4 linked regions of the Homo sapiens genome follow. The protein of the gene in region 1 purifies or fractionates together with the protein of each later gene. This does not show direct contact. Each region holds a gene or a part of one and is shown in the gene's direction. Other genes may lie near its edges.

What was found.
Region 2: the proteins of RSPRY1 (region 1) and NES purify together in Homo sapiens (affinity purification with mass spectrometry; 2 studies listed by BioGRID and IntAct, with this or other methods). This does not show direct contact.
Region 3: the proteins of RSPRY1 (region 1) and INA purify together in Homo sapiens (affinity purification with mass spectrometry; 2 studies listed by BioGRID and IntAct, with this or other methods). This does not show direct contact.
Region 4: the proteins of RSPRY1 (region 1) and INF2 purify together in Homo sapiens (affinity purification with mass spectrometry; 2 studies listed by BioGRID and IntAct, with this or other methods). This does not show direct contact.

What each region holds. Positions count from the first base shown.
Region 1 is NC_000016.10:57,203,329-57,210,328, forward strand, and holds part of RSPRY1 (RING finger and SPRY domain-containing protein 1 isoform 1 precursor), read left to right. Parts: intron 1-1,175; 5' UTR 1,176-1,330; coding exon 1,331-1,680; coding exon of another isoform or gene 1,681-1,684; exon of another isoform or gene 1,685-2,053; intron 2,054-4,264; coding exon of another isoform or gene 4,265-4,357; intron 4,358-4,729; coding exon 4,730-4,782; intron 4,783-5,746; coding exon 5,747-5,859; intron 5,860-7,000.
Region 2 is NC_000001.11:156,674,408-156,681,850, reverse strand, and holds the start of NES (nestin), read left to right. Parts: upstream 1-4,443; 5' UTR 4,444-4,586; coding exon 4,587-5,369; intron 5,370-6,510; coding exon 6,511-6,635; intron 6,636-7,443. UniProt on the Homo sapiens protein: Required for brain and eye development.
Region 3 is NC_000010.11:103,272,832-103,280,189, forward strand, and holds the start of INA (alpha-internexin), read left to right. Parts: upstream 1-4,306; 5' UTR 4,307-4,380; coding exon 4,381-5,445; intron 5,446-7,358. UniProt on the Homo sapiens protein: Class-IV neuronal intermediate filament that is able to self-assemble. It is involved in the morphogenesis of neurons.
Region 4 is NC_000014.9:104,713,552-104,720,635, forward strand, and holds part of INF2 (inverted formin-2), read left to right. Parts: coding exon 1-55; intron 56-651; coding exon 652-1,305; intron 1,306-1,732; coding exon 1,733-1,788; 3' UTR 1,789-1,789; intron 1,790-4,011; coding exon of another isoform or gene 4,012-4,095; intron 4,096-5,243; coding exon of another isoform or gene 5,244-5,272; 3' UTR 5,273-7,084.

The sequences.
Region 1 (7,000 bases):
GAGTAATATTTCTCTTCTAATTCCACTGAATTATAAATTTTGTTTATATTATTCCTGGTCAGTGCTCAAGGTATGAGGAATTAATTGTAACTAGCCAGATGTTGTGTAGAGACTACACACTAGCATAGTCTATTCCTTATGTGGCCTGTTCTCCAGCTGTCAGCCTGTTTTGTTTGTTTGTTTGTTTTTTTACTTTTTGCTACCAGCCCATGTAAGTCTCCTATTTCTAAATCTTTACTTCCTTCCAGAATCTAACCAGATTTTACCAGCTTCTTGAAGAGCTGGTTCTTTCATTAGGTTTTTAATGATAAACATACTTTGTGGGATGAGAATGGCCATCCATGAATTCCTGGAGGGCAGGAACTATTCCTTACTCATCTTTATTCTCCTAGTCCAGCGTGGTACCTGGCACAAGGTCCTTAGTCAGTATTTTCAGGCAAAGATAAATTGGTGCATCTTATTCTGAACTTTGTAATAGACATGTGCAACAAACTGATCATTGTGAAAATACAACTTTTGTGATATCAGTTTTCCTTTCCCAAAACAAAGCCTTGCTTACATAACAGAAACACTTTGCAACAACTTGTATGAATTCTGTCAGTTCTTGAGTGAGCTTCCAATGGGAAACTCTATCCTTTTATTCTCCTTGATATCAAATGGTGCTATCATATTTGTATCATAACTTTTTTTTAACAACAAACGTCTGTAATTATTTTATTTAAAACTTGTTAAATTATCCTATGGGTTTAAAGAAAGGAGTTAATTCATTTTTTTAAAGATTTTTCTCTTTTTAACACCTACCTCTTACACAGAAAGACAACTCTTTTTTTATGATAAAAGGAGCCCTTGAAAAAAAATGCACACATCCTTCTAATGTATTTCTATATAGACAGGAAAAACTATACATGTGGTTTTAAAAAAATCAATGATAACTCCTCTGGTCTATAAGAATATGGTTTGGCAATCAACTTTGTAACAGAATGATAAAAAGAAATTATTGATTGATTGCGAATTCTGTTATCCAAAGCTATCTCTTTGTATTGGAAACCTATAAAAATAACCAAAGATAATTCTTCATTAGAATCCTAATATCTATAAAATCAGACTAGGAAAATTTGAGTAATTAAGTGGTCAAGAATCTTTTATTCATTTTCCTTTTTCTCATTTTCTTTTAGAACTGCCATTGGATGTCCAGAATCCCCTGTAGTTGATAATGTTGGGAATAAGCTCTGCAACTTTCTTTGGCATTCAGTTGTTAAAAACAAATAGGATGCAAATTCCTCAACTCCAGGTTATGAAAACAGTACTTGGAAAACTGAAAACTACCTAAATGATCGTCTTTGGTTGGGCCGTGTTCTTAGCGAGCAGAAGCCTTGGCCAGGGTCTGTTGTTGACTCTCGAAGAGCACATAGCCCACTTCCTAGGGACTGGAGGTGCCGCTACTACCATGGGTAATTCCTGTATCTGCCGAGATGACAGTGGAACAGATGACAGTGTTGACACCCAACAGCAACAGGCCGAGAACAGTGCAGTACCCACTGCTGACACAAGGAGCCAACCACGGGACCCTGTTCGGCCACCAAGGAGGGGCCGAGGACCTCATGAGCCAAGGAGAAAGAAACAAAATGTGGATGGGCTAGTGTTGGACACACTGGCAGTAATACGGACTCTTGTAGATAAGTAAGTATCTGACTCACGGTCACCTCCAGTGGAATGAAAAGTGTTCTGCCCGGAACCATGACTTTAGGACTCCTTCAGTTCCTTTAGGACATACTCGCCAAGCCTTGTGCTCACAGGGCAAAGGAGAATATTTTAATGCTCCGCTGATGGCAGAGTAAATGATAAGATTTGATGTTTTTGCTTGCTGTCATCTACTTTGTCTGGAAATGTCTAAATGTTTCTGTAGCAGAAAACACGATAAAGCTATGATCTTTATTAGAGAATAGAGTAAATATGGAGTGAGTTTATGTTGCTAGCTACAATAGGAAATGGTTTCATGAAGGCTCACTGTTAATGGTACATGCCTGTCTATTCCACTGACCTCAGATTCAAGGTAAGTTGTTTTACCAAGAACATGGCTACAGGCAACTTCTCTTGGCAACATAAGGACTAAGGTCAAGGAGAGTTTTCATTATCCTTTATTTGATCCTTTATCCCTTATTTGACTATCTTTAATCCATTTAGGAAGCTTGTCAGTTGATACTGCAAGGCACACCTGTACCTGTTTTGTCTTTTCCTCTGCTTTGTCTACCTCTAAATACAAAATCATAGATTGAATAACAGTGAAATTAAAGGGCATCCAAGTAGAAAAAAACATTTAACTTAAGGTTGTATATTTCAGTAGTTAAGAGCACAAAGCTTAGAACCATGATGGGCCTAGCTCAAGTTCTGGCCCAGTGCCTTACTAACTGCATGACATTGGGTAAGTTACTTCTTGAAGCCTCAGATTCCTCATCTGTAAATGGGGGGATAATATTGTTCCCACAAGGATTATCATGAGATAATGTACATAAGGCATTCAGTGTGGAGCTTTGTACTTAACAGTTGCTCAGTAGATGGTAGTATTTTTTAAAAAGTTACTTATGTGTTCTTTTTGCTTCAGGCCCTGCTAGTAAATTTAAGTATATAAACATTTGATAATCGCATTTATAGAAACCCAGTTTCGTTTAGTTCCTCAAAAATTAAGCATAAAACAGAGTGTACCTGTGAATACAAACGAATTTTTAGAGCTGTATTAAACTTTTCCATAAAATACTGGAGCATTTGTTAGTCTTCGAGAAGAATAATTTTTTGGCCAGACACAATGGCTCATACCTGTAATTCCAACACTTTTGAGAGGCTGAGGTAGAAAGATAGCTGGAGGCCAGGAGTTCAAGACCAGCCTAGGCAACATAGGGAGATCCCATCTCTGCAAAAAAAATTTAAAAATTATCCAGGTACAGTGGCACTTGCCTGTGATCCCAGCTACTCAGGATTCTAAGACCGGAGTACTGCTAGAGTCCAGGAGTTTCCAGCTGCAGTGAGCTATGATCACACCACTGCACTCCAGCCTGGGCAATAGAGCAAGACCCTGTCTCAAAAATTAATTAATCAAAAAAAATTTTTTAAATCCCTTGTACCAAATTGTAATAAAAGTTATCCTTCCCAAATAAGGAAGTAAACCACAAACAATGTTAATTTAAGCTCATTGGAAAAATGGGTGCAGAATAGACTTTGAGAGAGAGAGTTTTTTTGTTTTGTTTTGTTTTTAAAGAGACAGGGTCTCACTTTGTCACCCAGGCTGGCGTACAGTGGCGTGATCATGACTCACTGCAGCCTCAGCCTCCTGGACTCAAACCATCCTCCCACCTCAGCCTCCTAAGTAGCTTGGACTACAGGCGTGTGCTACTGCACCTGGCTAATTTTTAAAAAAGTTTTTGTAGAGCCAGGTCTTGCCATGTTGCCCAGGCTGGTCTCAAATACCTGGACTCAAGCGATTGTCGAGCTTCAGCCTCCTTAAGTGCTGGGATTGCAGATGTGAGCCCCCACGCTTGGCCCCTTGCAATATTTTAAAAGAGAGTGACATAGTTATACAAACCTCTTTGTTTTTAACTTTTCTCAACATCGAAATCTGTGTTACTGTATATAAATCTACAACTGCTTCTGACTATTACAGAGTATTCCCTTGTATGCCTGAAAGTATTATATTTTGTTACATTTTCATCTGGTGATGGTCACTTAGGTTACTGCCAAATTTTTGTTCTTACAAACAGCACTGCAGTGAACAGCGCAAATATGCATTGATTTTTGGACCTGTGTAAAAATTTATCTACAACTGTTGGGTATATGCATACTTAATTTTATTATTGCCAGATCATTCTTCAGAAATACTTGCATCAGTCAATTATATTGTTTAAACAGGCAGCACCTAATGAGTACCTGAAATGACCATACTAATTCCCATATCACAAGGTTATTCTCTGGATTAAATGACTTAAGATGATAGTTTTTGGGGCTTTTTTTTTTTCCACACTAAAACAGAGACCCACAATATGTAAACAAATAAGTGGTGAGTTCTTAAGCAGTTAGAATTGTTTAATGGAAAACATCTCATTATTGAAGTTCCCCTGAAGGACTTTTTAAAGATTTCTGGGATCACACCACTGAATTAAGGTGTATAATGCCACTTTGGAGCAATGTCTAGAATGTTAAGTAGTTCCTTAAGTTTGGTTTTGTTTCTTGTAATACCATTTTATGAAGTCTAAGCATGTAGTGGTATTTCCAGAAGAAAACTTCAAAATGAAGATGCGTATATAGGCCCTTGCTTCCATAAGTCCTCAACCGGGATTGTCGTCTCTCTTCCTGGCATTTCTCTGAGGTAAGTATGAAGGTGATGTTGACCTTCCTGGCTTGTCTCAGTTGGCACTGGGCCTCTGAGTGTAAAGCTGAGAGTAGGCTGTGATCTCCAGTTTTACTCCTGTGCTTTTACCCCAGGACACATAGTAGTCTTTGTCTGTATCCACCTGCCCATTTTGTCTGTGGGTCATTGTGGACAGTGACTGGAAATGAGCACATATGGTATACATTCATCCTTACAGGTCATAGCTCAGGTTGTCTCTTCTATCTCTTTCCTTACATTTGTGTTCATTTCTTCTGTCCCTTTTTACCTCCACACCTCCAGTTTGAATTCTTATTTGGAATTGTCATTTATTATTTCCTCAGGTTTAATGCCTTGAATTTTTTTTTCCAGTGATCAGGAACCTCCCTATTCAATGATAACATTACACGAAATGGCAGAAACAGGTATTTTTAGTTTTGTTTTCATTACTTTATAATGAATATATAATAATGAAGAAAAGTAGCCACCTTTTGTTTTTTGTTTTGTTTTGTTTTGAGATAAAAGACTCCAAAAATACAGCATACATAACAATGAAAAAAGCCCTTACTGTATGGAAATTTCCCTGAATAGGTATAATAGGCAATGCATATTATACCTTTTTTTTTTTTTTTTTTTTTTTGGCATTGATGGATCTTTCACCATACTGTTCTGGAATGGAGAGGAGATTATTTATATATATATATATATATATATATTTTTTTTTTTTTTTGAGACAGAGTCTCACTCTGTTGCCCAGGCTGGAGTGCAGTGGCACGATCACAGCTCAACTACAGCCTCAACCTACCCTGGCCCAGGTGATCACCCCACCTCAGCTTCTCAAGTAGCTAGCACCACAGGCGCATGCCACAATACCCAGCAATTTTTCTGTTGTTTGTAGAGACAGAATTTCACCATGTTGGCCCAGCCTGGTCTTGTACTCCTGGGCTCAAGGGATCCTCCTGCCTCAGCCTCCCAAAGTGCTGGGATTACAGGTGTGAGCCACAGCCCCTGGCCAAAGATATTTTTTGTTCCTTAGTTTCCTAAGTATCATTCTGAAAACAAAGCCAACTGCTGAGTATACTTCATTTTCTCAGTTAACTCCTATGTAGTAAATAAGATGCTTAAAACTATTTTAATGTGAGAGCACAAGACCATAGCTTAACCTTTTTCCAAATAAAGGTACCCACAAATCACCAGACTCCTGTAACTTAAGATGTTTTTACTCCACCACGATGACTAGCAATTGATGATTATGTCCATGCCAAATATTAGCTGCTAAAAATCTATAGACCAAAAGTCTTTCTTTTAATGTGAATTGATCTCGTGTGACATATTTTCACATTTTAAAAATAGTGACTCCATCATATAATCTTCTTGATTTGCTCTTAGATGAAGGATGGTTGGATGTTGTCCAGTCTTTAATTAGAGTTATTCCACTGGAAGATCCACTGGGACCAGCTGTTATAACATTGTTACTAGATGAATGTCCATTGCCCACTAAAGTAAGTTAATACTTATCTTTTATGAAACTATCATTTGTGCTTAAGCACAAGATAAATGACCACAAAGAACATTTGATGTATTGTGTTTCATCTTTATACATTTGGGGTCTGTTTTATTCAGTATTGATTTTGTTATGTAAATTTATTTTGTATTATGAAGAATTATGTCCTCTTTTTTTTTCTTTTCCTCTTTGAGACAAGAGTCTCACTCTGTTGCCCAGGCTGGAGTGCAATGATGTGATCTTGGCTCACTGCAACCTCCGCCTCCCGGGTCCAAGCGATTCTCCTGCCTCAGCCTCCCAAGTAGCTGGGATTACAGGCACCCGCCACCACACCTGGCTGATTTTTGGATTTTTAGTAGAAACGGGATTTCACCATGTTGGCCAGGCTGGTCTTGAACTCCTGACCTCAGGTGATCCACCTGCCTCGGCCTCCTCCCAAAGTGCTGGGACTACAGGCATGAGCCACTGCACCCAGCCCTCTGTCTTTTTATTTATTTATTTTGAAACAGGGTCTCACTTTGTCACCCAGGCTGGCGTGCAGTAGAGCAATCACAGCTCACTGCAGCTGCAACCTCCCTAGGCTCAGGTGATCCTCCCACCTCAGCCTCCCATGTAGCTGGGACCATAGGTGCATGACCCCATGTCTGGCTAATTTTGTATTTTTTTTTAGAGATGGGGTTTCATCATGTTGCCCAGGCTGGTCTTGAAACTCCTGGGCTCAAGCAGTCAGCCCACCTCAGCCTCCCGAAGTGCTGGCATTGTAGGCGTTAGCCACTGTGCCCCGCCACATTCTCTATCAAGGCTTTATTTAATTGCTTTTTTTTCTTCTTTCTTTCTTTCCCTCCCTCCCTCCCTCCCTTCCTCCCTTCCTCCCTTCCTTCCTTCTTTCCTTCCCTTTCCTTCTTGCCTCCCTTCCTTCCCCGGCCCCGCCTAGGCTAGAGTGCAGTGGCACAGTCATGGCTCACTGTATCCTCAACCTCTCAGGTTCAAGTGATCCTCTTGCCTCAGCTTCCCATGTTGCTGGACTACAGGCATGCACCACCACACCTAGCTAAATTTTTTTTATTTTTTGTAGATAAAGGGTCTCACTATGTTGCCCAGGCTGATTTTGAACTCCTGGGCTCAAGGGATCCTCCCAC
Region 2 (7,443 bases), on another chromosome or scaffold:
AAACTTCAATCTCCTGTCCCATTAAAACACTCTTCATTACCTGCTAGCCAAGGCTTGGCCCCAGGTCCAAAGGCTGGCACTGGGGAGAGGAATGCTCTGCTCTTTGCACCCACCCCCACCCCTGTGGCCCCCTCTGAGGCTTATTTCCCCGCTGTAGGAGAGAGGAAGACACAGGGGTAGGTGCCACTTACCTAGTGTTACAGTCAACCTCCCTCAGACGTGAAGCTCCCTTGGGTGTGGTGACACCCAAGCCGGCTGCACCATGGGGGCTCCGTTTGTGGGGTCCTCTTGGCCCACAGAATCTCACCTGTCTCCTCCTGTGCCCCTCTCCTTTCCCCATTCATCTCTCTCCAGGCTCTGTGTCCCTTATTCAGTGAGGCTAAGAGAGTGGATGAGCAAGTCCTCCACCCTAAAAGACAGCCGGCCTGGAGCGGGATGCCAATGTGTCCTTTGGCAGGCCCTGCCTTGAGGAGTCCTTCCTTGGGGAGGCTGCACCCACTCTCCTTGGTGGGCATCATCCTTGCCCTCTGAGCAGAGGAGGGAAAGCCACAGCCTGCCATCCTGGACTGGCCACTCCACACTCCAGTGCTGCTGGTCACAGTCTCCTCACATTCCGCTTGCCTTCTCTAATGCAGACTTCGGTGGGGAGAAGGCCTTCAGGGTGGGGGCTGGCAATTTCCTTTAGGCTGTGTGTGTGCTACTCAGAGGCCATTATTTTTAGTTTCAGAGCTTAGACACAAGTTCATTCAGAAAGTCTTTATCAAACACTCTGGGACGGGTGTGGTGGCTCACGCCTGTAATCCCAGCACTTTGGGAGGCTGAGGCAGGTAGATCACTTGAGGCCAGGAGTTCGAGATCAGCCTGGCGAACATGGTGAAAACCCCGTCTCTACTAAAAAAAACACAAAAAATTAGCTGGGCATGGTGGCACAAGCCTGTAGTGCCAGCTACTCGGGAGACTGAGAATCACTTGAACCGGGGAGGCAGAGGTTGCAGTAAGCCGAGATCACGCCACTACACTCCAGCCCAGGTGATGGAGCGAGACTGTCTCCAAAATAAATAAATAAAATTTTAAAAAATTTAAAAATTAAAAATACAAAAACATTATTCCAAGATCCCTTACCATCTGGTCATCTTCTTCTGGGATTAACTCCAATCCATCAAGGTCCCTTTTAAAATATAGTGTCCAGTACAACACTCCAGATGTGGAGGGCAATGGGAGTGTTGCCATTGCTCATCTGGACACCTTGAATCTATAGTCACTTTTATCCTTTTCACTTTTTTAGACAGCCACCCAGTATTGGTTTCTTCCTAACAAGCTTGTAGTCTTCTAAAACCCCCAGCTCTTTCTTCTTTGCTAGACACTCCCTACTCTTCAGCCGGTCTTTATTCTCCTCTTCTTATGCTGTTGATTTTTTGAAACCAAAAGCAGAATTTTACACTTATCCCTATTAAATGTCATCTGTTTTTTTTTTCTATTTTGCTAAAATATAACTCTCAGTTCTTGCATAGTCTGTAGATCTGATAAACATGGCTTCCATGTTTTCATTCAAGTCTTTAATTAAAACTTTTAATTGTCAGGACCAAGGACAGGTTCCCTCGGGGCAGCACACAGAACCCACTAAGCTTGCTCATGGCCATCTCTGGGGATGACTGCTGGGCTGACTTTGTATCCACCAGCTGTAGTACCACATAGTTCATATGTCCTGGGTCCAGAGACCCAATAAAAGGTACGGCCAATGGCCCCACAAACATCCCAGTAACTAAATGCAGTCACCAGGGAAGGAGATGAAGGGAGGGCCTAAGTTTCTCTAGGGAGGGCCTTATTTCTCTAAGTACCTCAAATATCAGGTATCTGTTTAGAATCTGGTAAGCACTGACGTCAGATCCTCTAGGTTGTGAATGCTGGAACCTACCATCTCCTGTTTTAGGAAAATCAACACCACACTCTTCCCCAGAATTCTTAACAATCTCTATTCCCCATAATTCCTAAAACTCACAAGAGTGATTCACAAGAGGAGGTTTTCTTTAGCTTAATGGCTTTCATTGTGACGGTCCTCAAAAAAGGCTTTATACAAAGACTTCCCTATACCTGGTCTTATTTGATTATCAGAACAAACTTATAGGGATAGGTGGGTATTAACCTGCTTTGCCAAATAGGTAAACTCAGGCTCACTTAGAGAAGTTATGTGATTTGTCCAATGTCATTCAGTTAGAAAGTGCAAAAGTCAGCTAATCTTTGCATGAGACACAGTTCCAAATGTCTCCCCTTTGGGTGAGGGTGAGGGGTTCAGAGAGGAACCCCCAGCCCAATGCCACCCTACCTCTTTAGGGGACCGCCCCCAAGAATCCCAGGGGATCTCAAACATTTAGCATCCCTCTCCTCCCAGACAGAAAGTGAAAGAAAGAAGGAGGTCGGGTGCAGTGGCTCATGCCTGTAATCCCAGCACTTTAGGAGGCCAAGGCGGGTGGATCACCTGAAGTCAGGAGTTCAAACCAGCCTGGCCAACATGGTGAAACCCCATCTCTACTAAAAATACAAAAATTAGCCTGGCATGGTGGCAGGCATCTGAAATCCCAGCTACTTGGGAGGCTGAGGCAGGAGAATCACTTGAACCGGGGAGGCGAAGGTTGCAGTGAGCCGAGATCACATCACTGCACTCCAGCCTGGGCAACAGAGCAAGACTCCCTCTCAAAGATAAAAATAAAAATAAAAGAAAGAGAGGAGGAGATTCCAAGCAAGCTCTGCTGGCCACAACTCTGGGGAGCCCTCAGCCCAAACCAAACAGCAGGATTTATGAGGTAATGCAAGGTTGAAGGAGCCTGGGCATCCCAGATCCTCAGCCTCCCGGCCTGCACTGACTCTCAGTCAATGTCCTGTCACTAACCCCTCCCTGGCCTCTATTCTACATATTGGTGGTGAATTCCAAAGCCCCATTGGCCTGGGGACAGGGATGGGGTCCTTGAGAGACTCCTCAAGGGGAGGGGATATTGGAGGGATGACTTCCTGGTTATTGACCCGGCTGTACCCTCTACTCAGAAAACCCTCTCCATCCTCTGTGCTGCCTGGCTCTGTCCCCAGCACCTTGGAGGCTGATTAAGTATTGTAGTCATCTTTTTATGTTTACCTCCACCAACAGACTATGAGTGCCCATCACTGTTGACCTCACATCACCAAACTATAAGCATTTCCAGGGCTGGGACAGAGTTCCTGCAATCTCTTTGGTGCTGACACATAGTAGGTACTCAATTAACACTTGAGCTAAATTGGATTTAGCAGCTTGATCAGAAACGCCTTCCCCAAAGATCCCCTCCGTCTCATTATCCCTGCATCTCCTCCCCAGCCCTACTTCTCCTTCACTGTAAATCCCCCAAATCCCACCTGTCCTTTACCTCCCAGCTCAAGGATGCACTCCGTCCAGAAAGCCTTCCCTACTACTCTCACCCTTGGTGAGCTCTCTACTTCATAAACTGTAGAATCTTTAAAAGGTTGTTTTGAAGATTAAGTCAGATCATGGAAGTAAAATATTGGAACACGACTGGGCACATCATAAAGGCTGGATAAACTTGGGCTAGTCGTTAGGAAGGAAAAGAATGGCCTCTTCCTGCTGCTTCCACTTCTGAAAGCCGCCAGAGGGCGTCCACTACCCAACATTCCCTGGCAGGGGGTGCGGGAGAAGGGGCCCTTCCCCAAGAACAGAACTTCCTAAAGCGGATGTTTGAACCTCGCAGTTATACAGAAGACTTGTAGGAAGGATGGACAAACGTTCTTAAGCCCATGACGGCCCTTAACCTGGTCGCTCCCTTTTCTGATGGAGACTCAGGCAATAGCGTGTGTGCGTGTGTGTGTGTGTGTGTGTGTGTGTGTGTATCCGTGTGTCCTAATATCAGACATTTGTTCTTGTTTTCCAGGCAGCGTCTCTCTAGCTTCTTTCTGCAATGCTGTAGTACTCTCTCCAGTATTTCAGGAGGAGGAGCATTTGCTATTTCAAAAACGAAAAACAAAAACCTGGCCACATCCATTTTTTTCAGCAGCCATGCGATTTCCATCATTGCTCACATTTTATGGATGAGGAAACTGAGTCTTAGAGGAATTCAGTAAGTGATACCTCTCTCGGATGTGTTGAGTAACTGAGACTGCACTCCCTCCCAGGCTGGAACGTCCTGGTACTCCCACCCCCACAGGCTCAGTTCTGTGCATTATCTGCCTTTTTCGGGGATTGTGACCCTTCTTCACAGCCTCCTCCCTCAGAAAGCCACCACCATCAGATCCGATTCTCCATGGTACAGCTTCTTCTTTGGTTCCACTCTCCAGCACCCTGGGGAAGCAGGAACAGAGGCTGCTGCCACTCTCTGACCTCTAAGGGGTTAAGGCCTGGGTCCCGCCCCTCTTCCCGCCCGCCTGGCGGGAGTATGAATAGCCTCGCTCCCACTCCCGACTCTCAGTCGCTCAGGCTACTCCCACCCCGCCCCGCCCCGTCATTGTCCCCGTCGGTCTCTTTTCTCTTCCGTCCTAAAAGCTCTGCGAGCCGCTCCCTTCTCCCGGTGCCCCGCGTCTGTCCATCCTCAGTGGGTCAGACGAGCAGGATGGAGGGCTGCATGGGGGAGGAGTCGTTTCAGATGTGGGAGCTCAATCGGCGCCTGGAGGCCTACCTGGCCCGGGTCAAGGCGCTGGAGGAGCAGAATGAGCTGCTCAGCGCGGAGCTCGGGGGGCTCCGGGCACAATCCGCGGACACCTCCTGGCGGGCGCATGCCGACGACGAGCTGGCGGCCCTGCGGGCCCTCGTTGACCAACGCTGGCGGGAGAAGCACGCGGCCGAGGTGGCGCGCGACAACCTGGCTGAAGAGCTGGAGGGCGTGGCAGGCCGATGCCAGCAGCTGCGGCTGGCCCGGGAGCGGACGACGGAGGAGGTAGCCCGCAACCGGCGCGCCGTCGAGGCAGAGAAATGCGCCCGGGCCTGGCTGAGTAGCCAGGTGGCAGAGCTGGAGCGCGAGCTAGAGGCTCTACGCGTGGCGCACGAGGAGGAGCGCGTCGGCCTGAACGCGCAGGCTGCCTGTGCCCCCCGCTGCCCCGCGCCGCCCCGCGGGCCTCCCGCGCCGGCCCCGGAGGTAGAGGAGCTGGCAAGGCGACTGGGCGAGGCGTGGCGCGGGGCAGTGCGCGGCTACCAGGAGCGCGTGGCACACATGGAGACGTCGCTGGGCCAGGCCCGCGAGCGGCTGGGCCGGGCGGTGCAGGGTGCCCGCGAGGGCCGCCTGGAGCTGCAGCAGCTCCAGGCTGAGCGCGGAGGCCTCCTGGAGCGCAGGGCAGCGTTGGAACAGAGGTTGGAGGGCCGCTGGCAGGAGCGGCTGCGGGCTACTGAAAAGTTCCAGGTGAGGAGGTTGAGGGCCTGGGTGAGAGAAAGTCCCAGAAAGCTCCAGAAAGTCCCTTATGAAGCTCAGAGACCTTCTGGGAAGGGAGTGGGGCTAGCTGGCTGCTGAATCAGGAGCCAGTTCTCAGAAACCTGGTGCCACAAGTCCTAGACTTTTACAGCCCGTCTAGTGTAGGATGCGAATGGTGGGGCTTCTCGAAGCACATCCCGGGTGGGCAGTCAGGCCCAAGACCCGTTGCAGCAGCCCCGCCACTCTCTGGATGGCACCTTCTGGCTCTGATGATGACCGGGGCTCCGGGTCCCTTCCCAGGCTCTGGTATTACTAGGAGGACACCCAGCACTGTCGCCTCTGCGCTGAATCTGGTGGCCTGGCCACTCAGAATCACCAAGTTCCTCACAGCCCTCCTTCTCCTGAGGGGAGGAGTGAGGGGCCGTGAATGAATGGCTACCAGCCCCCTCCCATGTCATGGCTTCTCGGCTCCCTGGAGCACATTCCAGAGGCCCATAACAGCTGCTCCTTCTCACAGGGCACAGATGTGACCAGCAGCTGAGAAAACAGCTTCTTGCCTGGGCCACACAGAGGTGCCATGGCCACCTCCCCATCCCTCCTCTCAGAGGAGACAGAATCCAGAACATGTGGGAAATGGGGGTGGGGCGGGGGTGAGAGCCTGCTGTGAGGAGCAGGAGACAGTTGTGGGAGATGGGACCAACGGGGGACGGGGGCTGTTTGCCTTCCAGTCCTGCAGGCTCCAGGCATCTTGATTAATCGTTTTTCCTTCTGCTTTCGCTTTTTTTTCCCCCTCTTCTCTCTCCATAACCCATCTCGTCTCCTCCCTCACCTCCCCTTCCTGTGGGAGCTGTGTTCTGAGCAACATGTGCTACCATTTAATCAGCATCCTCAGAGGAGGAGCAGGCCATGGGAGAGAGCTGAGAGTGCTGACAGGGGCCCTGGGCTCATCTTGGCTGATCCAGAGGGGGCTCTCTGGGCAGGGAATAGGGTAGGGGAGGCGGGGGTCTGCTACACAGATAAGTCAGCCAGGGAGCAGGAGGTGCTTCCCGGGCAGCGGCAGCGGGCAGGAGGCAGGTTGGTTCACAGAAGGGACCCCAGCCCCTCCACTGACTGCCTCTCGCCTGCCCTGCAGCTGGCTGTGGAGGCCCTGGAGCAGGAGAAACAGGGCCTACAGAGCCAGATCGCTCAGGTCCTGGAAGGTCGGCAGCAGCTGGCGCACCTCAAGATGTCCCTCAGCCTGGAGGTGGCCACGTACAGGTACGAGACGAGCCCTGTCCACCCAGGCACACAGAGGCACACACACATGCTGGGGCAGACTACGTGGCTGAAGGGGACCAGAGGTGTAGGTGATGGCAACTCTGCTGCCACTGGGTTCTGTGACTCTAGGCTGGTCACTTCCACACCGGAACATGTCCTGCCTGAAACCGTCTGCTCCCCCATAGGCTGGAGACCTGAGCAATGTCCTGTGCCCAGGAAATCCCCCCAGGAGAGATGATATTGCCGAGCGGGACAGCCTCTGGAGAGGGGCTGGGCCCGTGTGGGGCAACTGCATCCAGACCCTTCCCCCAAGGGGCAAAGCTCCAACTCTATGTGTGCCCGCACCCAGGGGGTCATGTCCTTTGGCAGCCACGGAAAGGAGGCATTGCAGGCATGGGGTGGCTGCACTGACTTGCCACCTGACCTGGGCCTCAGCCTCGTCTAGGGGCTGAGGGCTGGGCTGGGGGACTTCCAAGGCCTCTTCTAGCCTGGATGTCATGGGGCGAGACTCCTCTGATGCCCCTAGTGCCCTTGGTCCTGCCCAGCCTTTCATTGTCCACATTTTCTGTTATCCTAGAAATGGCTGAGACCAAGGAGGGGTGGCTTCTCACTTGCTATGTGGCCTTGGGCAAAGCCCGCAGTCTCTTCTGGGAAACTGGTCCTGTTGGCTGAGGGGCCATTGATGGGGCCTGAGGAAGGGGCTCTGTGGCTGGTGAGGGGCCACATGAGATCCAGGAAAGGAGGAGAGGCAAGGCCCAGAGATGGAAGGTCAGTGAGGCTCTGGGGAGGACGTGGAGGAGAGGGGCTC
Region 3 (7,358 bases), on another chromosome or scaffold:
TTGCCCAGGCTGGAGTGCAATGGCGCGATCTCTGCTCACTGCAACCTCTGCCTCCCGGGTTCAAGCAATTCTCCTGCCTCAGCCTCCTGAGAAGCTGGGACCACAGGCATGTACCACCACACTCAGCTAATTTTTGTATTTTTGGTAGAGATGGGGTTTTGCCATGTTGCCCAGGCTAGTCTCAAACTCCTGGGCTCAAGTGCTCCTCCCACCTCAGCCTCCCAAAGTGCTGGGATTACAGGCATGAGTCACGGTGCCTGGCCTAAAAAAAGAGTTTACAAAGGAAGAGCGGAAGGCTAAGAACTGAGTCATTAAAACCAAGGAGAGTGGTCAGCACTGCCAAATGCCACAGAGAGACTGGAGAATGTGGCCTTAGGGAGAACTGGGGATGACTGACAACGTGTCTGTGGTGTCTGAGTGTGCCATCAGAGGAAGATGAAGACACAGCCCTGGCACACACAGGGAACTCCCTCAGGAGGCCTGGCCAGCTGGAAGGAGTTATGGATTGAGGCTCAGCCAAGATCACTCCTTCGCAGGATAGCTTTGTGCTAAAATTATTAAAGCCAAACATCTGGGCCTGTGGGGTGGGATGCCAAGAAAGAGGAGGCATAAGTCCCACAGGGGAATACCAGTTTGGAATCTCAGATAAGCTGTTGAGAAAATGCAAAATGCATCTTTGCCAGGGCAACTGTCACTCTGCTGAAATATTTAGGCCTTTTGCCTCACTTTCTTCTGTTCTATGTGTGTTTTGCCTTTGGGGTACTGATTCCACTGGAGGATGGGAAGGGAAAGAAAGCGGAACTCCAACCAGGACATTTTGCTGACTTTCAGTAGTAGTAGCCTGGAGACCTGTGCAAGGGTGTGATGGACTATTTCCTGCAATCCCCTCCCTAAACCCAATTCATATCCTGTTGCTGATGGATGTGAAACCGTTCCTTTCATTTGAAAGAGGATGATGATGACCATAACTCTTTATACCTACAGCTTAAAAGCACCTTCACATGCATCAGCTCAAGCTTTCATGACTCTTGGGAGGTAGGTGTTGTTATCCCTACATGCTTAGTAAGTGGCAGAAGCCACAATTCAAACCCATTGCCTCTGACTCTGAGTCCAATGTTCTTTCAATTACAAACCAGCATGCTGATTTGTTATCAGCCAAAACTCTTCCAAAGCCCACTTAGTCCTATTCTGGCTGCACAGAAATATTTTGTTTTTTTGAGACAGTTTCACCCTTGTTGCCCAGGCTGGAGTGCAATGGTGCGATCTTGGCTCACCACAACCTCCGCCTCCCGGGTTCAAGTGATTCTTCTGCCTTGGCCTCCAGAGTAGCTGGGATTACAGGCATGTGCCACCACCCTCAGCTAATTTTGTATTTTTAGTAGAGACAGGTTTCTCCATGTTGGTCAGGCTGGTCTCGAACTCCTGACCTCAGGTGATCCACTCGCCTCGGCCTCCCAAAGTGCTGAGATTACAGGCAGGAGCCACGGCAGCCGGCCGTGCTGCATGGAAATTAACAAGACTTCAAGAGTCTCACTGCAGGCTGGGCGCAGTGGCTGACGTCTGTAATCCCTGCACTTTGGGAGGCCAAGGCAGGTGGATCACCTGAGGTCAAGTTCAAGACGAGCCTGGAAAACATGATGAAACCCCGTCTCTAGTAAAAATACAAAAAATTGGCCAGGCGTGGTGGCTCATGCCTGTAATCCCAGCACTTCGGGAGGCCAAAGCAGGTGGATCACGAGGTCAGGAGTTCAAGACCAGCCTGGCCAACATGGTGAAACCCCATCTCTACTAAAAATACAAAAATTAGCCAGGTGTGGTGGTGGGCACCTGTAATCCCAGCTACTCGGGAGCCTGAGGCAGAGAACTGCTTGAACCCAGGAGGCAAAGGTTGCAGTGAGCCGAGATTGTGCCACTGCATTCCGGCTTGGGCGACAGAGCGAGACTCCATCTCAAAAAAAAAAAAAAATACAAAAAATAGCCAGATGTTGTGGCAGACACCTACCCGCTGACCTGTGGTGAGCCAAGATCACGCTACTGCCCTCCAGCCTGGGCAAGAAGAGCGCAACTCCGTCTCTCTTTTTTTTTTTTTTTTTGATGGAGTCTCGCTCTGTCACCCAGGCTGGAGTGCAGTCGCATGATTTCGGCTCACTAAAACCTCCACCTCCCGAGTTCAAGCAATTCTCCTGCCTCAGCCTCCTGAGGAGCTGGGATTACAGGCCCGTGCCACCACACCCGGCTCATTTTTATATTTTTAATAGAGACAGGGTTTCACCATGTTGGTCAGGCTGGTCTCAAACTCCTCACCTCAAGTGATCCGCCCATCTCGGCCTCCCAAAGTGCTGGGATTACAGGTGTGAGCCACTGCACCCGGCCAACTCCGTCTCAGAAAAAAAAAAAAAAAAAAAAGAGTCTCACTGCACTAAGCAGAATTATGTAGTGAAGAGAGAATGTATGCTTGTCTTTGCTTGCTGGTGACCTTGTGCTGCACCCGCACCTCGGTGCCTTATCTATAAGATGGAGGTGAGGGCCACCTTGAAGCATGGTTCAGAGGTAAACCTATGCAAAAGTGCCAGCACAAGTACTGGCAGACAATCATTACTCAGCAGTGTTAGCAATCTTTTATTGTTCACCTTACCAGGTCTTTCTAAGCCCAAAGACCTCAGAATTGAGTCCCTCCAACTCAAGGCTTTGGTCTGTGATGAGGAACCAGAGGGGCAGGCTGTGGCAGGGCCTGACCATCTTCCATGACATCAAGCACAAAGCCAAGAGATATGCTCCAAAGTCCCATAAGATCCCTTTTCACCCTTCCTTTAGTGGCCTGTCCCAAGCATATTCCCCTTTCCCCATGAAGTAAAACTTATCCTAGAACTACGTCCTTGAAGATTCCAATATCAATAAAAGGCCCTCAGTCTGGAATTCTGGGATATAACTAAAAAGGTCTTCCTACTCCCTCTCCAAAGCCATATCCACATCCTGAATGATATTAGAAGCTTGCAAGTGGGTACATATTACAGACGCCACACTGACCCCTCCCAGCCTTCATCTTTTCAGATTCCATTCTTTGATTCTCACCCCCTGCCCCACCAACCCTACCATGTGGCAGAAGAGGCCGGCTCAGTCACCAGCACTCTCCCCCACTCCTGGAGTTTAATCTTTTTGCAGGGATCTCTTTTCTCCAAAAAGAGATCTGCACAGGGAGTGGCTCTCTGAAGCCAGTTGAGAACCTGCCCTGCTGGATTTACACAAACTGAAATCTCAAATGCCCACAGGGTCAGAGAGGTAAAGTAAATGAATTAAGAAGGGGGGCGTAATTCAGTGGAGAATGGCAGGGACTGTAGTGAACAGGAGAGCACACTTCTTATACAAATGGCAAGGGCAACTCACCTCTGCCACTGTGGGCATCCCAGCTCTTCCCATTTTCAGAAGAAGCCAGAAATCCAATTTCTTTACAGGTGAAATCTCCTGGTTTAAAAATGCTCCTTTCGAAATATTTTAAAATATAATGCTCTAAACACAAAAGTCTGCAGCCCCCTTTCCAGCAGCTTGTGGTCCTGGCCTGTGCCATGCTTTAGTGCCCTAACGATGAGCCCCAGCAATTCCCAGCGCCTCCTGCTTCTCCAAGTCTGGCCTCTTTTCCCCTCTGTACCGCCGCTTCTCCCCACTCTCCGCAGCTCGGGGTCACTTTCTTTACTGATCTCCCCTCTCTTCTGGGAGAGGCACTTGCTGAACATCTTTCCGCCCGGAGCCTCCCCAGGAGCTGCAGAGGGGCAGCTGGAGAGATGCTTTCTGACGTAGCATCTCCCACCTTTCTCCTTGGGGACCCTGAGGAAGGGGACAAGGGCTCGCTCTGCAGGTCCTCACTGTAACTGGAAAAACACGACCTCGCCCTCGGGAAGGCTTTCTGTGCGCCTCACCTCAGGATGAGGGTGGGTGTAGGGGACACCTCCCAGAAACCCCTAACCTCCCAGTCGGTTAAAGAAGAGGGGATAGGGTCAAGGGATGCGACAGAGCTGTGTGGTTTCCGGATGGGAAACCTCAGTCGTTTAGGCACCCCTCCGCTCGAGTCACTTCCGAAGCAGTCGATTCTTGGGGAGAAGCGCTGCGGAAAGGGGCGACTCCGATGCAGATGGCCCTGTCCCGGCGCCCCAGGTCGTCGCGCGCGCAGCTGCGGTAGTCACTGCGCCTCCCCGCCCCCACTCCTGGATGCCCCCCTTCCCTCTCCCGGCCAGACTCTGAGCAGGAGCTCCGCCCCCAGCGCGCCGCCCCAGCCCCGGCGCCTTAAAAGCCGGGCGCACCGCCCCGCCGCGCCCTGCCTGCCGCACCTCTCCTTTCTTCTGTAGCTCGCGTTGAAGCCGCACGTCCGGCCCCGATCCCGGCACCATGAGCTTCGGCTCGGAGCACTACCTGTGCTCCTCCTCCTCCTACCGCAAGGTGTTCGGGGATGGCTCTCGCCTGTCCGCCCGCCTCTCTGGGGCCGGCGGCGCGGGCGGCTTCCGCTCGCAGTCGCTGTCCCGCAGCAATGTGGCCTCCTCGGCCGCCTGCTCCTCGGCCTCGTCGCTCGGCCTCGGCCTGGCCTATCGCCGGCCGCCGGCGTCCGACGGGCTGGACCTGAGCCAGGCGGCGGCGCGCACCAACGAGTACAAGATCATCCGCACCAACGAGAAGGAGCAGCTGCAGGGCCTCAACGACCGCTTCGCCGTGTTCATCGAGAAGGTGCATCAGCTGGAGACGCAGAACCGCGCGTTGGAGGCCGAGCTGGCCGCGCTGCGACAGCGCCACGCTGAGCCGTCGCGCGTCGGCGAGCTCTTCCAGCGCGAGCTGCGCGACCTGCGCGCGCAGCTGGAGGAGGCCAGCTCGGCTCGCTCGCAGGCCCTGCTGGAGCGCGACGGGCTGGCGGAGGAGGTGCAGCGGCTGCGGGCGCGCTGCGAGGAGGAGAGCCGCGGACGCGAAGGCGCCGAGCGCGCCCTGAAGGCGCAGCAGCGCGACGTGGACGGCGCCACGCTGGCCCGCCTGGACCTGGAGAAGAAGGTGGAGTCGCTGCTGGACGAGCTGGCCTTCGTACGCCAGGTGCACGACGAGGAGGTAGCCGAGCTGCTGGCCACGCTGCAGGCGTCGTCGCAGGCCGCGGCCGAGGTGGACGTGACTGTGGCTAAACCAGACCTGACCTCGGCTCTGAGGGAGATCCGCGCCCAGTATGAGTCCCTGGCCGCTAAGAACCTGCAGTCCGCGGAAGAATGGTACAAGTCCAAGTTTGCCAACCTGAACGAGCAGGCGGCGCGCAGCACCGAGGCCATCCGGGCCAGCCGCGAGGAGATCCACGAGTATCGGCGCCAGCTGCAGGCGCGCACCATCGAGATCGAGGGCCTGCGCGGGGCCAACGAGTCCTTGGAGAGGCAGATCCTGGAGCTGGAGGAGCGGCACAGTGCCGAGGTAGCTGGCTACCAGGTAAGGGCCGGGGCTGGGCGTGGGGAGGGGTGCCCTGCCCTCTTCCGCGCGTACCCTCTTCCTCTGGTAAAACTGGGCCCCAGGACTTAAGGGGAGGGCAAAAGAGAGGAGAGAAGAGCCGCGGCTGGAGGCGCTGGTTAACAAAAAACCCTGGAGTCTTTAATGTTAATTTTAGGGAACGCCCCTCATTTATGTCCCTGCCCCAGCCCTTCAAACAAAGAAGCCCTTAAATTTATTTGAGGTTCGAAAACCCAACTCTGCCTGTCTGTCAGCAAGCGGGCCTACACACACCGGCGACCCGGAGAACAGTGCCCCACCCAAAGTAAGACTGAGCCCAACGGGGCAGGTTACGTGGGCGGTGCTGTCTCGGCTATCTGGCTTGTTTGGTTGACTTTGAAAAGCTTTCTGTGCGCCCTAGAAGTTATTTATGGAGTATGGTCTGCTTCAGGGCTGAAGGAAGAATGCGATCCTGAACTGGGAAGAGTCCTATCCCATTTTCTTGACTTTCGCGCTCCAAAAAGTAGAGATTGGGAGCCAACAAGCTGAGCGATGCTTGAGCTAGTAGTAACCACCCTGCTCTACCCACCTCCCCAACACACACACACACACGATTCCCTTGTCCACCAGCACACACACACACACACACACACACACACACGATTCCCTTGTCCACCAGCTGACATTTCCTCCTTAAGAAAGCGTTCGCCGGTTGGCAAAACGTGAAAGGTCGGGGCGCTGTCCACGGTGCTGATCTCGAGTTCTTCCCATCTCAGAAATTATGTCTCTCCTGTCTCGTGTCCCAGTTATGAATCTCTAGGCAATTAACTGCTTTGATTTTTTTTTTCCTGCAACACCAACACATCAGTCTTGGCTACCTGCAATCAAAGGTCACCTCATAGACAACATCAGTTTTGGCTTTCATGGATGGCTTAGCACTAAACAAAAAACACTTAATTTGCTCAGCAGCTGTGAGGTCCCACTTGAAAATTCCTGTTTTGTTAGTATTTTTTTCATTGTAAGTGCATGTGATAAGTCACAGAGATGGTTTTTCTTTGTTCTAGTGTATGTATTTTTTCCATATTTCCCTGTCCTCTAAGCTCCTGTGATGGTATTGATTGGCTATTTCTTCCCAACAAAGGCCACTGTGTCTTCAGTTTTACTATATAAGAAATTCTGGGATTATGACCGCAAATGGCACAGAGGCAGGGGACAGGGTAAATGGAAGGTGTAGAAAAGAATTGGAATAGTGTGGTTCGGTTTCAAGGTACAATAAAAGCTCCTTTGAATAGAATGACTATAATTCAGAAACTTGCAATAATTCTAGCTAGGATTAAAGTTTACATTTGGTGAGATTAATAGGGCTTGGAACATTGGTAAAATAGAACCAAGAAAGGAATGAAATCTCAAAAGTAACATTTTAATCAGAAGCTAAAGAATTCTTATTGATGTGCAGGTATTTGCTGTTTGTTACAATAACTTCCTTTGATAAAGGAAAAAAGCCTGCTTGGACTGTTTAGGTTAGTTTGGTATTGCATTATCATTCAAATAAGTACTTCCATTTCTGCCTCAAAATCCATAACTTGAACTTTTCATTATGTACCCTAACCCCTGGATGGCCTGAATTAATCACATTTGGCTAATTGAGACTTCATTTTTTTCTTCTAGAAGCCTCCAAGTACGAGCTAGGTGGTCTTCTGGAGGGCTAGCCCAGTATTTCTACAAAAAAAGGATAACTTACTCAGAGCTGCCAGCTGAATTGGGCTTCTCCATTTTCTCTGCTTGTTATAGCCCATACATTCTAAGAAGTAGTGACAGTTTTGCCTGGCTTGTTTGCTGTAAAAGGCTTTCATCATTAGACAATGGTAGCGTCATCCAGACATGGTCTACAGGAAACAAACAAAAAACAACAACAG
Region 4 (7,084 bases), on another chromosome or scaffold:
ACCGACGGGGGCAGCAAGGCAGCCTCCATGGATCCCCCAAGAGCCACAGAGCCTGGTAAGACCCTCTCCCACTGCCTCCTCATGGTCCCCTTGCCACTGTCCCTACCCTGTGCCTCCAGGAAGTCCTCCTGACTTCACTGGAAAGCCCTCTCCTCTCCCTGGGCCACCCTGGAGGCCCCTAAGACTGGGGACAGCCGAGGGGACAGGTGGTGGCCGCTCAGCCCTCATCCCTCCCTCCACTCACTCCAGCTCCTCCACTGTAACCGCAGGCCCTGCCCTCAGTGCTGAAGCAGCAGTCCAGCCCGCTGGGCTCCAGAGAGATGAGGCCAGGCCCACTGACCGATGCCCTTGGGCTCAGAGGGTGCTAGAGGTGGCAGGAAAGGCAGGCGGCAAGGCCCTGGTGGGAGGACCCCATTCCTGGGGTGGCTGCCTCAGGGTGCTGGGAATGGCATGGCCCAGTGTCCCCCACCCTGCCACAGTGTAGACAGACCAAGGACGCTGAGGCCGGGTCCTGCTCTGAGACATCAGAGGAGGCTTTCTGGGGAGGAGGTTTTGCAGGGCGTTCAGGTAGACAGCGGAATGGAGGAGGCTGCACCTGGGCTGGCTCGGGGGCAGGGTGCCTGCCCTTCACTGGTGTGTCCCTCCATCCAGTGGCCACCAGTAACCCTGCAGGAGATCCCGTGGGCAGCACGCGCTGTCCCGCCTCTGAGCCCGGCCTTGATGCTACAACAGCCAGCGAGTCCCGGGGCTGGGACCTTGTAGACGCCGTGACCCCCGGCCCTCAGCCCACCCTGGAGCAGTTGGAGGAGGGTGGTCCACGGCCCCTGGAGAGGCGTTCTTCCTGGTATGTGGATGCCAGCGATGTCCTAACCACTGAGGATCCCCAGTGCCCCCAGCCCTTGGAGGGGGCCTGGCCGGTGACTCTGGGAGATGCTCAGGCCCTGAAGCCCCTCAAGTTCTCCAGCAACCAGCCCCCTGCAGCCGGAAGTTCAAGGCAAGATGCCAAGGATCCCACGTCCTTGCTGGGCGTCCTCCAGGCCGAGGCCGACAGCACAAGTGAGGGGCTGGAGGACGCTGTCCACAGCCGTGGTGCCAGACCCCCTGCAGCAGGCCCAGGTGGGGATGAGGACGAGGACGAGGAGGACACGGCCCCAGAGTCCGCACTGGACACATCCCTGGACAAGTCCTTCTCCGAGGATGCGGTGACCGACTCCTCGGGGTCGGGCACACTCCCCAGGGCCCGGGGCCGGGCCTCAAAGGGGACCGGGAAGCGAAGGAAGAAGCGTCCCTCCAGGAGCCAGGAAGGTAACTCAGGGAGGGGCCCCGGGCACCGTCCCACGCCAGGGCGCTGGCACCCAGCCGGTCCCTCCCCTTCCCCATTGGGCACTGCAAGTTCCAGCGGCACCCAGGAGAGGTGACTTGGGTGCGGCACGGGAGAGGAGGCGGCAGTGCGTCCACCGCAGGGCGGCTATGTGGGCTGCCGCGGCCCGTGCAACTATTCCTCCAACCTACTAATTCCGACCTTCACGCCACCTCCGTTAGGGAGTAGGGGGCGGACACCGGGCACCAGGTCCCAGGCAAGTGGCTGCCATGTGGCTTAGTGGCCAGAGAACCGGGCAGCCCTCAGAGGGTGTTGGCATGGCTGTCCCGGGCCCCCCAGCCCCACCCACTCCGAGTCAGGGTTGCTTCTGTGTGATAAGCCGTTGAGTGCGTTTCTTTTATTTGGAAGCAGAGGTTCCCCCTGATTCTGATGATAATAAAACAAAGAAACTGTGTGTGATCCAGTAAGGTATGTACGCAGCCGGCGCTCCGTGGGGGCTAACAGCAGCTGCAGGGCAGTGGGGCTGGAGCTTGCTGCCCACACCCCTCCGGGACACTAACCTGGCTTCTCTCCAGCCCGCGTGGTGCGTCAGTGTGGCCTTGCCGCTCCCGCAGCCCTGGTGGTGGGCTTCCCGCCCCATCCCCTCCCTCTCCGCAGGTTACCTGCTCAACTGGTGCCTCCTGCAGGCAGGACGCAACCTCAGTGCTGGCCCCGGGCATGCGGGCCTCGAGAGGGCAGGTGGCAGGGCCAGCCGGACTCCCTTAGCAAGCAGGATCCGGGCCCTGGGGCGTGGGCGGGACCTCCTGGCTGGCAGGACAGGCTGAGGTTGCTCCTGTCTGGTGTCCTGGCGCTAACTGCAGTTCCAGTAACCCTGTGGCTTTCCTGCTCTGTCTGTTGGTGGAGGGCTATCTTCACTCTAAGTGTGTCAATGGCGTGGGGCCTTCTGGGGCATGTCCCCAGGAAGTCTGTGAGGAGACCGGGACAGTCGCAAGGGCAGATGCTGCCAGGGACAAGTACACTGCAACCCCCCTCCTGTTGGACAGTGTCCTCCCACCCCGAGGCCATGGGTGGGTCTATGGAGAAGCAGATTACCCCCCGCACACCGAGTCTTCTGGGGGGCGACCAGCCAAAGGTCAATCAGCCAGGTCCGTCCACAGGGCTGGAGAGGCCAATGCATCCAGCTAGACAGGACCAGCCTGCACTGGGTGGAGGAGGGGCTAGAGCAGAGAACCAGAAGGTCCAGCCCGGCCGATCATGAGCTCTGTGAGCCCAGGTCGTGGCGTCTTCCAGCACCTCCAGCCTTGCTCAGAGCCAGCCCGGTGTCGGTGCATCACAAATATGCTGACCGCTGGGCCTGGGGCTTAGGCTCAAGGTGCACACCTGAGGTCTGCTGGTGCCCATCAGAGGCAAGAGCAGTCGTGACCCCGGAGAAGCTTCTCCGGACAGCTTGTCCTCGCTGTTGGGGCACGGCCTTCACCCTGGGTTCCAGCTTTTGCTTCCAGGGTCATCTTCCGAGTGTGGCTCTCTGGTGTGAAGCACCCACGTGTACTTTTTAGAAAGGTGCTGGCATCTCCCTTAGAGGCTGGAACTTGGACTTGCTGGCCCTGAGTGTGAGGAACAGTGGAGCATGCAGGTCTGGGGCGGGCGGCCACATCTGACAATGGTCCAGTGAAAGATGGACGTGTCCAGTGCCAGCTCCACGCTCCACCTGGTTCCCTCCTGAACCTGCTACACGTGCTTAGCCTCCACCCGCCCCAGCTCCTGCCACGCACGTGGCTGAGGGCAAGAGGAAGAAGTCCTCTTCTCTCCCCAACTTTTTATTTTTTATTTTTTTTCAAGACGGAGTCTCACTCTGTTGCCCAGGCTGGAGTGCAGTGGTGCGATCTGAGCTCACAGCAACCTCCACCTTCCAGGTTCAAGTGATTCTCCTGCCTCAGCCTCCCGAGTAGCTGGGACCACAGGCACACGCCACCACGCGCGGCTAATTTTTTGTATTTTTAGCAGAGACAGGGTTTCACCATGTTGGTCAGGCTGGTCTCGAACTCCTGACCTCAGGTGATCCACCCGCCTCGGCCTCCCAAAGTGCTGGGATTACAGGCGTGAGCCACCGTGCCCAGCCCCCACCTTTTTATTTAGAAAATCTTCAACACCACAGGAAACTGCATAGATCAGAATGAACAACACCTTCTCCCCGAAATTACAACCATTTGCCAAAAATACCAAAATTGTGACCATTTTGCTACATTGCCCCCCTCCAACTGAGGCATCTGAGAGTTTCTTATAAACATCATGGCACTGGAGCCCTAAACTCGCCCACAGACACCTGAGAGCACAGCCGTCTTCCTCAGTCCCCCCCGGGCAGGGTGCGCTGCCGTCCTCCCAGTCCGCCCCCACCGGGCAGGGTGCGCTGCCGTCCTCCCAGTCCCCCCCCCGGGCAGGGCGCGCTGCCGTCCTCCTAGTCCGCCCCCCCGGGCAGGGTGCGCTGCCGTCCTCCCAGTCCCCCCCGGGCAGGGTCCGCTGTGGGGCGCTTCACGTCCACATGCTTCTAATACTCGGTCCCAGTGCAGATGTGCCACTTGCCCCAATAATTCCTTCTCTAGTTGTTGCTTTGTTGTTTTTGCAAACAAGATTGTATCCAGAGTCACATGCTGTGTTTGGTTATCATATCACTTCAGTCTCTTTTGTTCTAGAACATTCCTGCCCCTTTTTGTCTTGTATGACATTGACGTTCTGGAAGATAACTTCACTTTGGGTTTGCCTGATTGCGCCCCCAAGTAGGTCCAGGTTGAGTTTTGGGGCAGGAGTTCTACCCCAAGGGATGCCATGTCCTCCCCAGCTGGGTGGGGACGTTTGTGGCAGCAGCGCTGACCACGGCTGCGGGGGTGGTTTCTGAACCTCCACTGCACGAACACCACGCTGTCTGGTTAATAAGCACCGGTGGTGACCTGTGGAACCAACCGCTGCAGCGCGGTTCTGTGTTCGCCGCCCCTCGTCCGAGCGTTCCCCCCTCCCCTCCCTTTTTCCATCACGTGAGTTTTGAACGTGCAGTAATCCTTCACTGCCACTGCCGTGCATTTGATGGGGACCAGCGGGGGCCCTGAGCGCTTCCCATCTTTGGCACAAGCCCCTGTTCCTAGCTCACCCCAGACTTGCTGATCCCCCCATCCCTGCACGGGCCTTGGTCTTGGCCATTTCTCCAGGTTCCCTGAGTGGGGAATGGTGCTGAGACCCTCCTTTGAGTGATTGTTTTGGATAGTTTTTGTTTTCTTGCTGTCTGTTTAGAGTAGTGGTTCTCAAACCCTGCTTGGGCCATCCCACTGGGGAGCTGGGACACCACCTGGCACTGTGGTGGCAGTGGGGGTGACACTCAGACAAGGGCCATCGAGGGCCCCTGGACCAGAAAGCGAAGAGGGCGTTGGGGGCAGGAGGCCTGTGGGGCCATGTGTGGGGGCCGTCTGGGTGGCGGGAGCTGTTGGGGCAGGGCTGAGCGCCCTCAGCAGCCCACTGGAGAAAGCGCTGCTGGGGTCCTCGTGTGGGGCCCAGGGCCCGACGTGGAAGCAATGGAGGGCTGCAGGGGGTGGCAGTGGGGATGAATGAGTAAGGACAGAGTGCAGCCTGGGTCTCAGACAGGGGGTGGGGGACAGGCCACAGAGATTCCCTATCTCAGCAGAGAGGAGACAGGCTCAGGCTGCCACGCCTTGCCAAAACCCAGCCTGGCCAGGCCAGCCCGGCACCTTCCACCTAGATAAGTTGTGCTGCTCCAGAGAAAGAGCCTGGGGTCAGAGTGGACCTGCGATGCATGGCACAACCTGCTGGACAGTGGCGATGAGGGGTTCAGGGACCTGGGCACCCAGAAGCGGGCACCTGATATTGTACCCAGCAAAACTGCTCCTAATAATGTCATTTTTTCTCTCTCTTACAGGCCTCAGGCCCAGGCCCAAGGCCAAGTGAGAGAGCCCAGGCCACAGGACATGCTGCCATTCTGCCAAGAGAGGCTCTTCTGGGGGCCAGGCTGGGACTGGGCCCCGGAAACCAAAACTCCGTGCCTTACCCAGCCGGGGCCCTCCTGGAGCCTTCTTGGGGTGTTGTGGCTGGGAACCCGACAGGCACCAGTGCCCTGCCAGGCCTGGTGCCCTCCTGGACCGCCTGCACGTGCCAGCCTCCCACCTGCTTCCTAAAGGCAACCCTGGCCCACACCCGCATGCGCCCGGTGCAGCCTGCCAAGGGCCAGTCGGGGGGTGCTGCGTCCTGCCAGTGTCCACCACAGCTCTGCCTGCCCTTCAGCCCAGCAAGGTTTAATCAAAATGCAATGCTTTGCAAGTCTTTACTGCTTGGAGGTGGCTGAGTTGGGGGCCCTGGGCAGGGGTAAGCTGGCAGGCAGTGCCATGGCAGGCCAGGGTCCCCTCCCATGGGGTCTGGCCCCCGTTCCAGCATGTCCAGCCCCTGAAGTTGGAGTGGGGGGCGGTCTGCCTTTGCTGCCACTGCCAGGCCTCTGCCCTGCAGCTGAAACTTGGCCATCACATCAACAGAAAACCCCTCCCAGTGCCAGCTGCCCAGCGTGGGCAGGCCCTGGGGACAATACAGGTCCACCTGAGGGGCTGCAGGGTGACACCCAGCAGCCGCTGCCCCCTCACTGCCCACCCAGCGAGGGCAGCCTACCCGAGCCTGCCCCCTGCCAGGTGTGTGCCCTGAGGCTGGCGGCTGGATGCGTGGCCAATAAAAAGCAGACCTAGCCCGGTGTGCGACTGTCGTGTTCAGAGGCTGCGGGAGTGGGCGGTGGACGTGGGCTCCCACAAACATGGTGAGCGCTGGACAGGCCCCGTGTGAACACTCACTGTTGAGGGGCCCCCAGGCCCCGTGTGAACACTCACTGTTGAGGGGTCCCTGGGCCCCCAGGCACCGTGTGAGCATTCACTGTTGAGGGTCCCCCAGTCCCCCAGGCCAGGGGCTGTCCCTGGAGCCCTCAGGAGGCAGTAAGAAACATCTAGAAGAGGGCAGACCCAGTGGTGAACCGCATCCAACAGTGGTGAGATGGGTGCAGCTCTACAGGGGCGTAATTTACAAACCACCAGACTCCCTGGTTATGTGTGTGCTGCGGTGGTGTTTGCTCTCCAGCAGATCAAGTTTGTGCAATGATCCATTTTGAGAATCTCTCCGTCACCCCAAGAAGTCCTCTCGCACCCATCAGTCCGACCCCTTCCCCGTGCTCCTCCCCAGCCCTGGCAGCCACTCACCTGCACTCCAGACGCTCCAGATGTCATGCATGTCTCCTGGCTTCCTTCGGCTGTTTTCACGCGCCATCCTCACGGCAGGCTGTATCAGGACTTCATTCCATTTCATGGCTGAAGCACATTCCATTGCATGCAGGGACCACATTTTGTTTGTCTGCTCTTCTGTCCATGGACATCTGGGTTGCTTCCAGTTTGGGGCTTCTGTGAATCCTGCTGCTGTGGACATTTGCGTAGTCCTCGTGTGGATGCTGCTGTGGACGTCTGCGTCGTCCTCGTGTGGATGCTGCTGTGGACGTCTGCGTCGTCCTCGTGTGGATGCTGCTGTGGACGTCTGCGTAGTCTCGTGTGGATGCTGCTGTGGACGTCTGCGTCGTCCTCGTGTGGATGCTGCTGTGGACATCTGCGTAGTCTCGTGTGGATGCTGCTGTGAACGTCTGCGTAGTCTCGTGTGGATGCTGCTGTGGACGTCTGCGTAGTCTCGTGTGGATGCTGCTGTGCACGTCTGCGTCGTCCTCGTGTGGATGCTGCTGTG